3 linked regions of the Homo sapiens genome follow. The protein of the gene in region 1 purifies or fractionates together with the protein of each later gene. This does not show direct contact. Each region holds a gene or a part of one and is shown in the gene's direction. Other genes may lie near its edges.

The links.
Region 2: the proteins of ZDHHC15 (region 1) and ZNF211 purify together in Homo sapiens (affinity purification with mass spectrometry, with the first as the bait; one large-scale study listed by BioGRID). This does not show direct contact.
Region 3: the proteins of ZDHHC15 (region 1) and CD84 purify together in Homo sapiens (affinity purification with mass spectrometry, with the first as the bait; one large-scale study listed by BioGRID). This does not show direct contact.

The regions. Positions count from the first base shown.
Region 1 is NC_000023.11:75,512,979-75,516,631, reverse strand, and holds part of ZDHHC15 (palmitoyltransferase ZDHHC15), read left to right. Parts: intron 1-3,653. UniProt on the Homo sapiens protein: Palmitoyltransferase that catalyzes the addition of palmitate onto various protein substrates.
Region 2 is NC_000019.10:57,631,618-57,635,370, forward strand, and holds the start of ZNF211 (zinc finger protein 211), read left to right. Parts: upstream 1-1,550; 5' UTR 1,551-1,729; coding exon 1,730-1,819; intron 1,820-2,095; exon of another isoform or gene 2,096-2,288; intron 2,289-2,405; coding exon 2,406-2,444; intron 2,445-3,011; coding exon 3,012-3,138; intron 3,139-3,200; coding exon of another isoform or gene 3,201-3,321; intron 3,322-3,753.
Region 3 is NC_000001.11:160,541,389-160,545,041, reverse strand, and holds part of CD84 (SLAM family member 5 isoform 2 precursor), read left to right. Parts: 3' UTR 1-3,653. UniProt on the Homo sapiens protein: Self-ligand receptor of the signaling lymphocytic activation molecule (SLAM) family.

The DNA.
Region 1 (3,653 bases):
GTTTTTAAGGTTTTAGGTCTAACATTTAAGTCTTTAATCCATCTTGAATTAATTTTTGTATAAGGTGTAAGGAAGGGATCCAGTTTCAGCTTTCTACATCTGGCTAGCCAGTTTTCCCAGCACCATTTATTAAATAGGGAATCCTTTCCCCATTTCTTGTTTTTGTCAGGTTTGACAAAGAGCAGATGGTTATAGATATGTGGTATTATTTCTGAGGGCTCTGTTCTGTTCCATTGGTCTATATATCTTTTTTGGTACCAGTACTATACTGTTTTGGTTACTGTAGCCTTGTAGTATAGTTTGAAGTCAGGTAGCATGATGCCTCCAGCTTTGTTCTTTTGGCTTAGGATTGTCTTGGCAATGCAGGCTCTTTTTTTGGTTCCACATGAACTTTAAAGTAGCCTTTTCCAATTCTGTGAAGAAAGTCATTGGTAGCTCGATGGGGATGGCATTGAATCTATAAATTACCTTGGGCAGTATGGCCATTTTCATGATATTGATTCTTCCTATCCATGAGCATGGAATATTCTTCCATTTGTTTGTGTCCTCTTTTATTTAATTGAGCAGTGGTTTGTAGTTCTCCTTGAAGAGGTCCTTCACATCCCTTGTAAGTTGGATTCCTAGGTATTTTATTCTCTTTGAAGCAATTGTGAATGGGAGTTCACTCATGATTTGGCTCTCTGTTTGTCTGTTATTGGTGTATACGAATGCTTGTGATTTTTGCACATTGATTTGGTATCCTGAGACTTTGCTGAAGTTGCTTATCAGCTTAAGGAGATTTTGGCCTGAGATGATGGGGTTTTCTAAATATACAATCATATCATCTGCAAACAGGGACAATTTGACTTCCTTTTTTCCTAATTGAATACCCTTTATTTCTTTCTCCTGCCTGATTGCCCTGGCCAGAACTTCCAATATGTTGTTGAATAGGAGTGGTGAGAGAGGGCATCCCTGTCTTGTGCCAGTTTTCAAAGGGAATGCTTCCAGTTTTTGCCCATTCGGTAGGATATTGGCTGTGGGTTTGTCATAAATAGCTCTTACTATTTTGAGATACATTCCATCAATACCTAGTTTATTGAGAGTTTTTAGAATGAAGGGCTGTTGAACTTTTTCAAAGGCCTTTTCTGTGTCTATTAAGATAATCATGTGGTTTTTGTCTTTGGTTCTGTTTATATGATGGACTACGTTTATTGATTTGCATATGTTGAACCAGCCTTGCATCCCAGGGATGAAGCCAACTGGATCTTGGTGGATAAGCTTTTTGATGTGCTTCTGGATTCGGTTTGCCAGTATTTTATTGAGGATTTTGCATCAATGTTCATCAGGGATATTGGTCTAAAATTCTCTCTCTTTTTTTTCTTTGTTGTGTCTCTGCCAGGCTTTGGTATCAGGATGATGTTGGCCTCATAAAATGAGTTAGGGAGGATTCCCTCTTTTACTATTTATTGGAGTAGTTTCAGAAGAAATGGTACCAGCTCCCCTTTGTACCTCTGGTAGAATTCGGGTATGAATCCATCTGGTCCTGGACTTTTTTTGGTTGGTAGACTATTAATTATTGCCTCAATTTCAGAGCCTGTTATTGGTCTATTCAGGAATTCAACTTCTTCCTGATTTAGTCTTGGGATGGTGTATGTGTCCAGGAATTCATCCATTTCTTCTAGATTTTCTAGTTTATTTGCATAGAGATGTTTATAGTATTCTCTGAAGGTAGTTTGTATTTCTGTGGGATCAGTGGTGATATCCCCTTTATCATTTTTTTATTGCGTCTATTTGATTCTTCTCTCTTTTCTTCTTTATTAGTCTTGCTGCTGCCTCACAATTCTATCTCGGACTGCTGTACTAGCAGTGAGCAAGGCTCCATGGGCGTGAGACCCACCGAGCCTTGCATGGGATATAATCTCCTGGTGTTCCATTTGCTAAGACCATTGGAAAAGCACAGTATTAGGGCGGGAGTGTCCCGATTTTCCAGGTGCAATCTGTCATAGTTTCCCATGGCCAGGAAAGGGAATTGCCAGACCCCTTGTGCTTCCTGGGTGAGGTGATGCCCCGCCCCGCTTCGGCTCACACTCCATGGGCTGCACCCACTGTCCAACCAGTCCCAGTGAGATGAACCTCGTACCTCAGCTGGAAATGCAGAAGTCACCTGTCTTCTGTGTTGCTCACGCTGGGAGCTGTAGACTGCAGCTGTTCCTATTCAGCCATCTTGGAATGATCCTGTTGAATACCAGCTTAATTTAATAGTATACAAAACCCAGCCGTTTACAGCTCTGTTGCCCCCTTTATGCTATTATCACAAATTACATCTTTATACATTGTATACTCCTTAACGTAGATTTATCATTGTTGTTTTATGCATTTTTTCCTTTAAATTAGATAGTAAAAAGAGTTAAAAAAAACGTAAAACTCAATATTACTTGCTTTTGTAGCTACCTGTATAGTTTACCAGTGTTCTTATTTTTTTGTATAGCGTGGGTTACAGTGAGTGCCTTTTCAGTTTTTCTAAAGAATGCCCTTTGGCATTTCTTGAAGGGCAATTCTACTAGTGATCAGCTCCCTCAGTTTTTGTTTATCTGAGAATGTCTTGTTTTCGCTTTCATTCTTTGAAGTATAGTGTTGCTGGACATAGAGTTCTGTATATGTGTTGACAGATGTTTTTCTTTTTCTTTCAGCAATTTAAATATCACATTTCACTGCCTTCTAGCCTCTGTGGGTTCTTAAGAGAAATCAGCTGTTAGTCTTATTGTTTTTTTTTTGTTATGTAAAAAGTCAATTTTCCTGCTTTCAAGATTTTCTTTTTGTTTTTTGGCAATTTGACTATAATGTGTCTGATTGTGGATATCTTTTAGTTTATTCTATTTGGAGTTCATTGCACTTCTTGGATGTTTAGATTCATATTTTTTACCAAATGTATGAAGTTTTTTAGCCATCATTTTTTCAAATACTCTTTCTGTTTTTCCTCTCTTTCCTCTCACTTTGGAAGCCCCGTTATGTGTATATTAGTATGTTAGGATATAGGCTGTATATTAGAGTGTAGGCTCTATTATTGTATATAGTAGAGTGTAGGCGGCTGTCCTCACAGCCTCTACTGATCTGGGATGTGGAGGATGGTAGGCAGCCACTTTAAAATGTCACAGTATCCTCTTACTACAAAGCATCAGTTCTTTTCTTCACCAAGTCTTCCTCTCTGGTTATTGTAACAATTTTACTAGATTCCAGAGTTCTGCAAAAGTTTATTCTGACAGTTTTTGCCAGCTCATTAGTTGCTTTTGAGGAGGGATGTAAGTCTGGAGTACTCTTAGTTTTGGTGCCCAATAGTATCCATTCTGAGATTAAAAAATAAAAATAGCTATGATATAATTCTACTTGAAAGGTAGAAATTTTCCGAAGAGACATGAAGTCCTTGCCCACGCCTATGTCCTGAATGGTAATGCCTAGGTTTTCTTCTAGGGTTTTTATGGTTTTAGGTCTAACGTTTAAATCTTTAATCCATCTTGAATTGATTTTGTATAAGGTGTAAGGAAGGGATCCAGTTTCAGCTTTCTACATATGGCTAGCCAGTTTTCCCAGCACCATTTATTAAATAGGGAATCCTTTCCCCATTGCTTGTTTTTCTCAGGTTTGTCAAAGATCAGATAGTTGTAGATATGTGGTGT
Region 2 (3,753 bases), on another chromosome or scaffold:
GACGGAGTGAGGCCCTGTTTAAAATAATGATAATAATTTGATATTTTATGCATTAAAAACTTTTGTCTGGGCATGGTGACTCATGCTTGTAATCTCAGCAGTTTGGGAGGCTGAGGCAAGAAGATTGCATGGCCCTAGGAGTTTGAGACTAGCCTGGGCCCTATAGGGAGACTCCATTCCTACAATAATTTTTTTTTTAACTAGCCGGGTGTGGTGGTGTGCTTGTAGTGCCAGCTACTCAAGAGGCTGAGGTGGGAGGATCACTTGAGCCCAGGAAGTGGAGGCTGCAATGAGCTATGATTGTTCCACTGTACTCCAGCCTGGACAACAGAGTGAGACCCTGTCTCAAAAAAAAATTAAATGTTTTGATTATACAAGGAAAATGAACATTCATGTATTAAAGCTTCATGTTTTATGAACAAAACTGACTTTGCAGGCAGGAGAGCGTTTTCTGGGGGCACCAGAAGCAGGGAACTTCCCTTGTCCGTTGGCTTCAGGGCTGCCCACTATCCCTCCACTATCTTCCCATTGTAGCCCTGTCTGGTGTCTTTTGTCCCTGACAAAACCTACAAAAAGTGACTTTAACACTTCAGGCTGCATGCATTTGAAGAGCAATAAGATAACGTTTTTTCGCTTCCCACTACCAGTGGAGATCTGCTGGGGTGGGCTGCATGGAATCTGAAATGATGTCTAAATACTGAAGTGAACCTCTACACTAGAGACTGATATACAGCTGACCCTTAAACGACGCAGGGGTCAGGGATACCGACCCCTGCGGAATTGAAAATGCTTGTATTACTTTTGACTCCCCTAGGTCTTAACTACTAATAGCCAACTGTTGCCCGGAAGCCTTATGAAGTTGCCCGGAAGCCTTATGAATTACATAAACTCCCAGTCGATTAACACATTTTGTATGATATATGCATGATATATGCATAATATATATGATATATGCATTTTGTATGATATATGCATTATATATATTTTAGTATAAGAACTATACTTGTACTAAAACAGACCAGAGAAAGGGTATCAGGAAAATTGTAAGAGGCTCGTTGACATTACACCCAATTAAAAAAAGGAAAATAAAAGAATACGGAAGGGAAAATACATTTACTAATCATTAAGTGGAAGTGGATCATCATAAAGGTCTTCATCCTTGTGTTCTTCATGCTGGGCAAGAGAATGAGGTCTTGCTGTCTCTGGGGCAAGAGGTCGGGGAGCTGGAAGAGGCAGGAAAAGGAGCACACTCGAAGTAACGTTTATTGGGGAAAAAAAACGCCTACGTGTAAATGGACCCGCACAGCTCAAACCTGTGTTGTTCAAGTGTCAACCTACTTAAGACCTCAAACACCGAAGCCCCTCAGTCGCCCTGGAAGGCAGCAGACGCAGCTTCCTAGCGCTCCCAGCTGTCTGCACACAAGGCGCCCTCCGTCGCAGCCTGGGGGAGACTACATTACCCAGAAAGCCTTGCGTCGAGCGGCAGTACTTTGATCCAATGAAAATCCAAGACAGGGGCATTTCCGTGTGGGTCTACCCCCGCCCCCCCCAGGGCGGGACTTGTGGCGTCTTCGCAGCGGTCATTTTGGCTGCCCTCCCGGAGGTCCGTTCTGTCTGTCAGCCGCTTTGGTACGCTGCATCGGGATCGAAGTGACGGACCGTGAAGGCGCGAGAGTCAGGTCTGAGGGTCGGGGGCAGAGCCGCCCGCGAGGCCGGCCTGGGGATAGCGATGCTCGGGTTCCCCCCGGGTCGCCCGCAGCTCCCGGTCCAGCTCCGCCCACAGACTCGGATGGCGACCGCACTGAGGGACCCGGCTTCGGTGAGCGCTGCGATCTCCGGGCCTCCCCCGGCCGAGATTCTTAAGTCCCAAGTGAGAGGCACCAGCTCACGTCTCTGTAGCACAGGGTCGGGGACACTGAGGCTCGTGGGTGGGGCCCCTATTTCTGACATCCGATGTGGTGGGCAGGGGGACAAGGGACAGGACCGGCGCGTGCAGGGCTTGGACGGGCAACCGAGAAGGGGGCATTCAGGAACCTGGGCTCCACATTGTTACTGCAGGGAACAAAGTTTGAGAGAGATCTACCTTTATTCTTAGGGCCGTGGGAGCCATAGAGAGCTTGCGCAAACGAGAGACACCATCTGAGTTAAATTTGAAAAATCCTCTGCAGGCTGTTCAGTGGAAGAAAAGACTTTAGAGATGGATGAGGACGTTGAGGCAGAGGGAGGTTGAATATTTTTCCAAGGCCACACAACTGGTGAGAGGCAGCACTAAGGACCGAGGCGCACAGGTTAGACAGTCGACCCAAAGTTACGTGGCTCTGGGCCGGGGCAAGGGTACAGGGAAGGCCTGTGCCCATGGAGCACTGCCATGATCACATTCCTCTGAGGCCTGCGTCTTTCCACAGGTTCCCATAGCTACAGAGGTGCTTTTCAAACTTACACAGGTAAGTGGAGGTATCTCAGCCCCTCACTGGTCTGGAATGTCCCTCCACCCTCCCCAGACAGATATTTTCTTTAGATTTGTGGTGTCATGGGACTCACCTACCATTCTCTCAGCGTTTGGTTTGGGAACCCTGGAGAATCCCTGAGCTAAGGGCCCTGAGTCCAGGCCAATGTTTCCATTTGGAGCAGCCAATGGAAAGATGGGTGAAAATTTATGATAGAAACAGGTAGGTACCAGCTTTTGGAACTCCTTGGAGGTGAGGCTGAGCTGGTTCAGGGAACTGCAGGTTTCCTTTATTTCTGTGAAGTTTGGCATCTATTGTGAGGAAGTTGGAGTTTGGGATCAGAGGAGGGAGATTTATCTAACCCAAGTGTTGACAGGATACAGAGTGGAAAACAGAATGAACACAGTGACTAATGGGAATGTGAAGAGACAGCAGGGATCAATGACACCAAGGTCTGGTGTCTCTTCTGACTTGGGGATCTTGGGAGGAGAATGTATGGGGACATGGATTTTGAGTCTTCCAAATTGAGACTGTTCATGGTTTCATCAATCCCTATTATGCTAGGGAAGTGTGACCTTTGAAGATGTGGCCGTGTACTTCTCCTGGGAGGAATGGGATCTCCTTGATGAGGCTCAGAAACACCTGTACTTCGATGTGATGCTGGAGAACTTTGCACTTACGTCCTCCCTGGGTAAGGCCCTCATACTCACCCTTGTGCCCTGGACTAGGCTCTCTGTTTCTCCTTTTCCTCAGGAGCAGCTCTGTCCTCATATCTGGACTATAGGCACTGCCTCCTTCCCCAGTTCCCTGGGTAGATGTTGTGGACTGAGTGCAAGCCTACTTCCCTTATCGTCCCAGCCCAAAAGCATCTTGGGTAAGGATTTGGGATCAGTAGTCTTACAGTAAGCCTAATAGATCCCACCTGACTTGCCTTCTCCCTGTCTGGTGACTTTCTAGATCTATGGCACCCAGTTTTCCCTCCCTTCGTGTACCTAACATTTATTTGTGCTAGACTGTGACATGAAATGTAGTCACTGACATTGCCACTATTTACACAGACTGTTCTTCAACCACCAACCTTTCCATTAACAGCAGAACACTCTAACAAATTGTGCCGCAGAGACATTACACAGACTGTTCTTATAGAAACCTCCTTCAAGGTGTTTTTCTTTGTTTTTAATTGTAAAATATATATAACAAAATTTACCATTTTAATCATTTTCAAGTATATAGTTCAGCGCATTTAGTACATTCGCATTATTGTGCAACCATCACCACCATCCTTCTATAGTACTTTTTCATCTTA
Region 3 (3,653 bases), on another chromosome or scaffold:
TCTGTAAAATGCATGTGATCTTATTTTCCCCTCCACAACTTTCCAGATGAACTAGACTGTGACCAAGAGGTCTATAAAATCAAAGCATCATGGAACAGGATCTTGTATCAGACCAAAGTGTGCCAGTTTTTAAAAATGTGCATCAAAATGGAAGTCTCAGAGACAGAGCCCTCTGGTGGAAAGTTCTAGTAGGTTAGGACAGTCCTGCCTGCAGACACCTTGGGCTTTACTGAGGGACTCAACTGAGAAAATGAGGAATGTTGCAGCTCATGATTCTTAGAAGAAGAAAGTGAAGCTTGTTTAAAATATGATTTAAAAAATCTGTAGAACACTGTAAACTACACAGGCTATGAGGGAATAGCCTGGTTGGGCCAGCTTGGAAATCGGGCACAGGCAGGAAGGGGCCTGTCTGGTTTGGGCCGTGTCCACAGAGAGCACTTCTTAGGTCCTGCCTGGAGAGAAGGAATGGCTGGGCTATATTTTCTTCCAGACTCATTATTTTTCTTCTGTTTGACTTTTCTCTGAATTTCCCTTGATTTGTATAAATTTTCTCAATAATTAGTGACAGTGTCTACTGATTGTAAAATGAAGCTTGAAGGCCAGGCGCAGTGGCTCATGCCTGTAATCCTAGAATTTTGGGAGGCCAAGGTGGGTGGATCACAAGGAGTTCGAGACCAGCCTGGCCAAGGTTGTGAAACCGCGTCTCTACTAAAAATACAAAAAAATTAGCCGGGCATGGTGGCACGTGCCTGTAGTCCCAGCTACTCAGGAAGCTGAGGCAACAGAATCACTTGAACCTGGGAGGTGGAGGTTGCAGTGAGCCGAGATCACGCCACTGCACTCCAGCCTGGGCGAGAGAGTGAGACTCCGTCTCAAAAAAAAAAAAAAAAAAAAAAGTTTGAAGAACAAAGACAATAAGAGGAAATATAATGAGTGGTCATAAATGTGGGCTCTGACAGTAGAGTGCCTGGGTCTGCATCCTGGTTTCTTAGTCATGTGACCTTAGGCAAGTTACTTTAACCTCGCTGTACCTCAGGTTGTCCATCTGTAAAATGGGGATAATAATAGTGCCTACCTTTTAAGGTTGATGTGGGGATTAAATGAGGTGTTGCTCATACAGGAATGTGCCTGTGCATGGCAAAGTTCGGGAAATTTTTTATAAGCTGTTCTAGGCCTGAAATCTTCAGAAGATGCTAATCTAAATTCATGAAATAAGCTTCTTACAACAGAAATGCTGCTAGTATTATGCAAAATTAATGTTGTATATCAAACTTTTAACTCTCATCCCTCCTTATTCAGATATATTTTGTTATAAGCAATGTTTGTTCCCCTCGTTATTATACCACAGTCTACTTACCTGATGCTATATCTGCCTCCCCAGTTAGACTGAGAGAACAGGGGATATACCTAAATAATAATAATAATAATAATAATAATAAATAATAATGGAGAGCTCCTTGAAGATAGGGAGCCTGTAAGAATCATTGAGGGCTTATTTTGTATACCAACTGCTAAACTAGATGCTTCATACATTGTTGTCAATACTCATGACAGCCTTGTAAAGTAGAAATTAATTCTTCCAGTTAACACTAAGGCTGACATATGAATACCTTGGCAAATCTGGAAAGCTGGGAAGACAGTATTTGAATTCAAGACTTCTTGTCACCAAGGGCCATGCACTTGTACTCTGCCATGTGGCCCTTTTTTACCTCCTGTGGATTCTCCCTACCTGGTACTTGGCCTTAGGTGTACACACACCTGGCACTTTGCTTGACACATAATAGGTGGACCACAAATATCTACTAAATGAATATTTGCATATAGTAATATTTTAAGGTACTAAAAGCAGCTCAAAGTAAATATATTAATATATTAATTCCATTGCTATCTGGATAACCACTCAACTTTCCTGCTGAAAATGCCCATTTAATTAAAGAAGGTTGGATAGAGCTCTCTATATGCATTTTGGACAGGCAGGGGTTTCAGGTCATAAACATTCTGATGAGTTAATATAAAATAAGAGAAACTGTAAATTTCCACTACTAAAAATCACAAAAATAACAGAAACAAAAGAAGAGATAAGAATTTGGGGAATTGTGCTGAACAATTTAGTGGTTAAAAAAAACAACTGTGCATGTTTAGACTTAAATAAGCCCCCATCCAAGTGTGAGGGGTCCAGTAATTTTTCAAAACATATGAAAGTGTTAATACATTTCGACAAAGGACCATTAAAAAAGTCCTGAATTCTGACTTGAGGGAGGAAAGTAATGACTAATACATTCTCTAGAGACTTGCAGACTTTGGGAATTCATAAAGGAATGGATGATAATTATTAACTGTTGCTGGCTGATTGCCCAGACAGTTCTCAACAGCCCTGTACAAGTCTCTGGGTTTGGGATGGATCAATTCTGAGACTGGAAAATGGCCAAATCTTTGCAAATGAGAAATATTTTTCTTATAAGTTCTTATTGTAGGCAAATAATTACATAGATTATTCATCAGAGAATTTTTAAATGCTCATAATCTCAACTCTTTCATTTACAACTTGTATTTCCAATAGTTTATGGGTCATCTCTGCATAGATGTCAGAAGTCACCTCAAGTTTAGCGTGTCCAAAATCTAACTCACAGGTCTGTTTCTGACCTCCCAACTTGCTTTCCTTGTGTTTTTCCTATGCTAATGATCCACCATAATCAAAATAATTAACATTTATCCAGTGCCTACTATGTACTATTCCCTGTCCTGTTTTACATTTACTCATTTAAAGTCCATAAGAAACATTAAATCTCATCTGCCTTCTGAAGAAGATACAACCATGCTCTCTTTTACAAAGTAGGAAACTGGGTCACAGAAAGGTGAAGTCTTTAAGGCTGAATCACAGTAGCTCATCCTAGTAAATAGAAAAGCCAGGATTCAACTCCAGGGGCTGGGTGCAGAACTGCTATTCTTCACTGCTTCACCAATCAGCAGCTACCCAAGGCAGAAAACTTTTTCATCCTTGGCTCCTTCATTCTCCCTGTCACCCCAGATCCCCTCTACATCTAGTCAGAGAATAGGTCCTGTCAATTCCAACTTCTCTATATGGCTCCTCTCAGGCATGTGCCCTTAATTGGCCTAATTCTCTAATACACCTTCCCTCTACATGCTCACTCCCTCAGATCATTGCTTTATCACGTGTTACCTGGGTTGCTATTACATAAAGAGCAATCTTTCTAAAATGAGGATCTTATCACTTCACTTCCACACTAAAATGTTTTTCCTGGGGAACCACACTCCTTAGCAATCTGACCCATCAGACCTTCCAGGCTGTCTCCTGCCTGCTCCCTAAGGCTCCAGCCACACAGAATTATCATGGGCCCACACACCCACCAAATCCTCCCATGCCTTTGCCCATGTTGTCTGGGATGCCCTTCTCTCCCTTCTGTCTACATCAAGCATCAGACTGAATATCCCTCTTGTGCGGCCTTCTAAAACCTCCCGTCCAAAGCGAAATATATTGCCCTCTATTTATACTTTTACAGCATTTGGCACACAAGTACAGAGTAGTAGCTTTTTATCACATTCTCTGATAATTATATAGATATGGTATTTCTTAGCTCTCTCTCCAACTGGCTAATAAGTTGCTTTTTGTCTGAGTGCCTAATTTTGTGTTT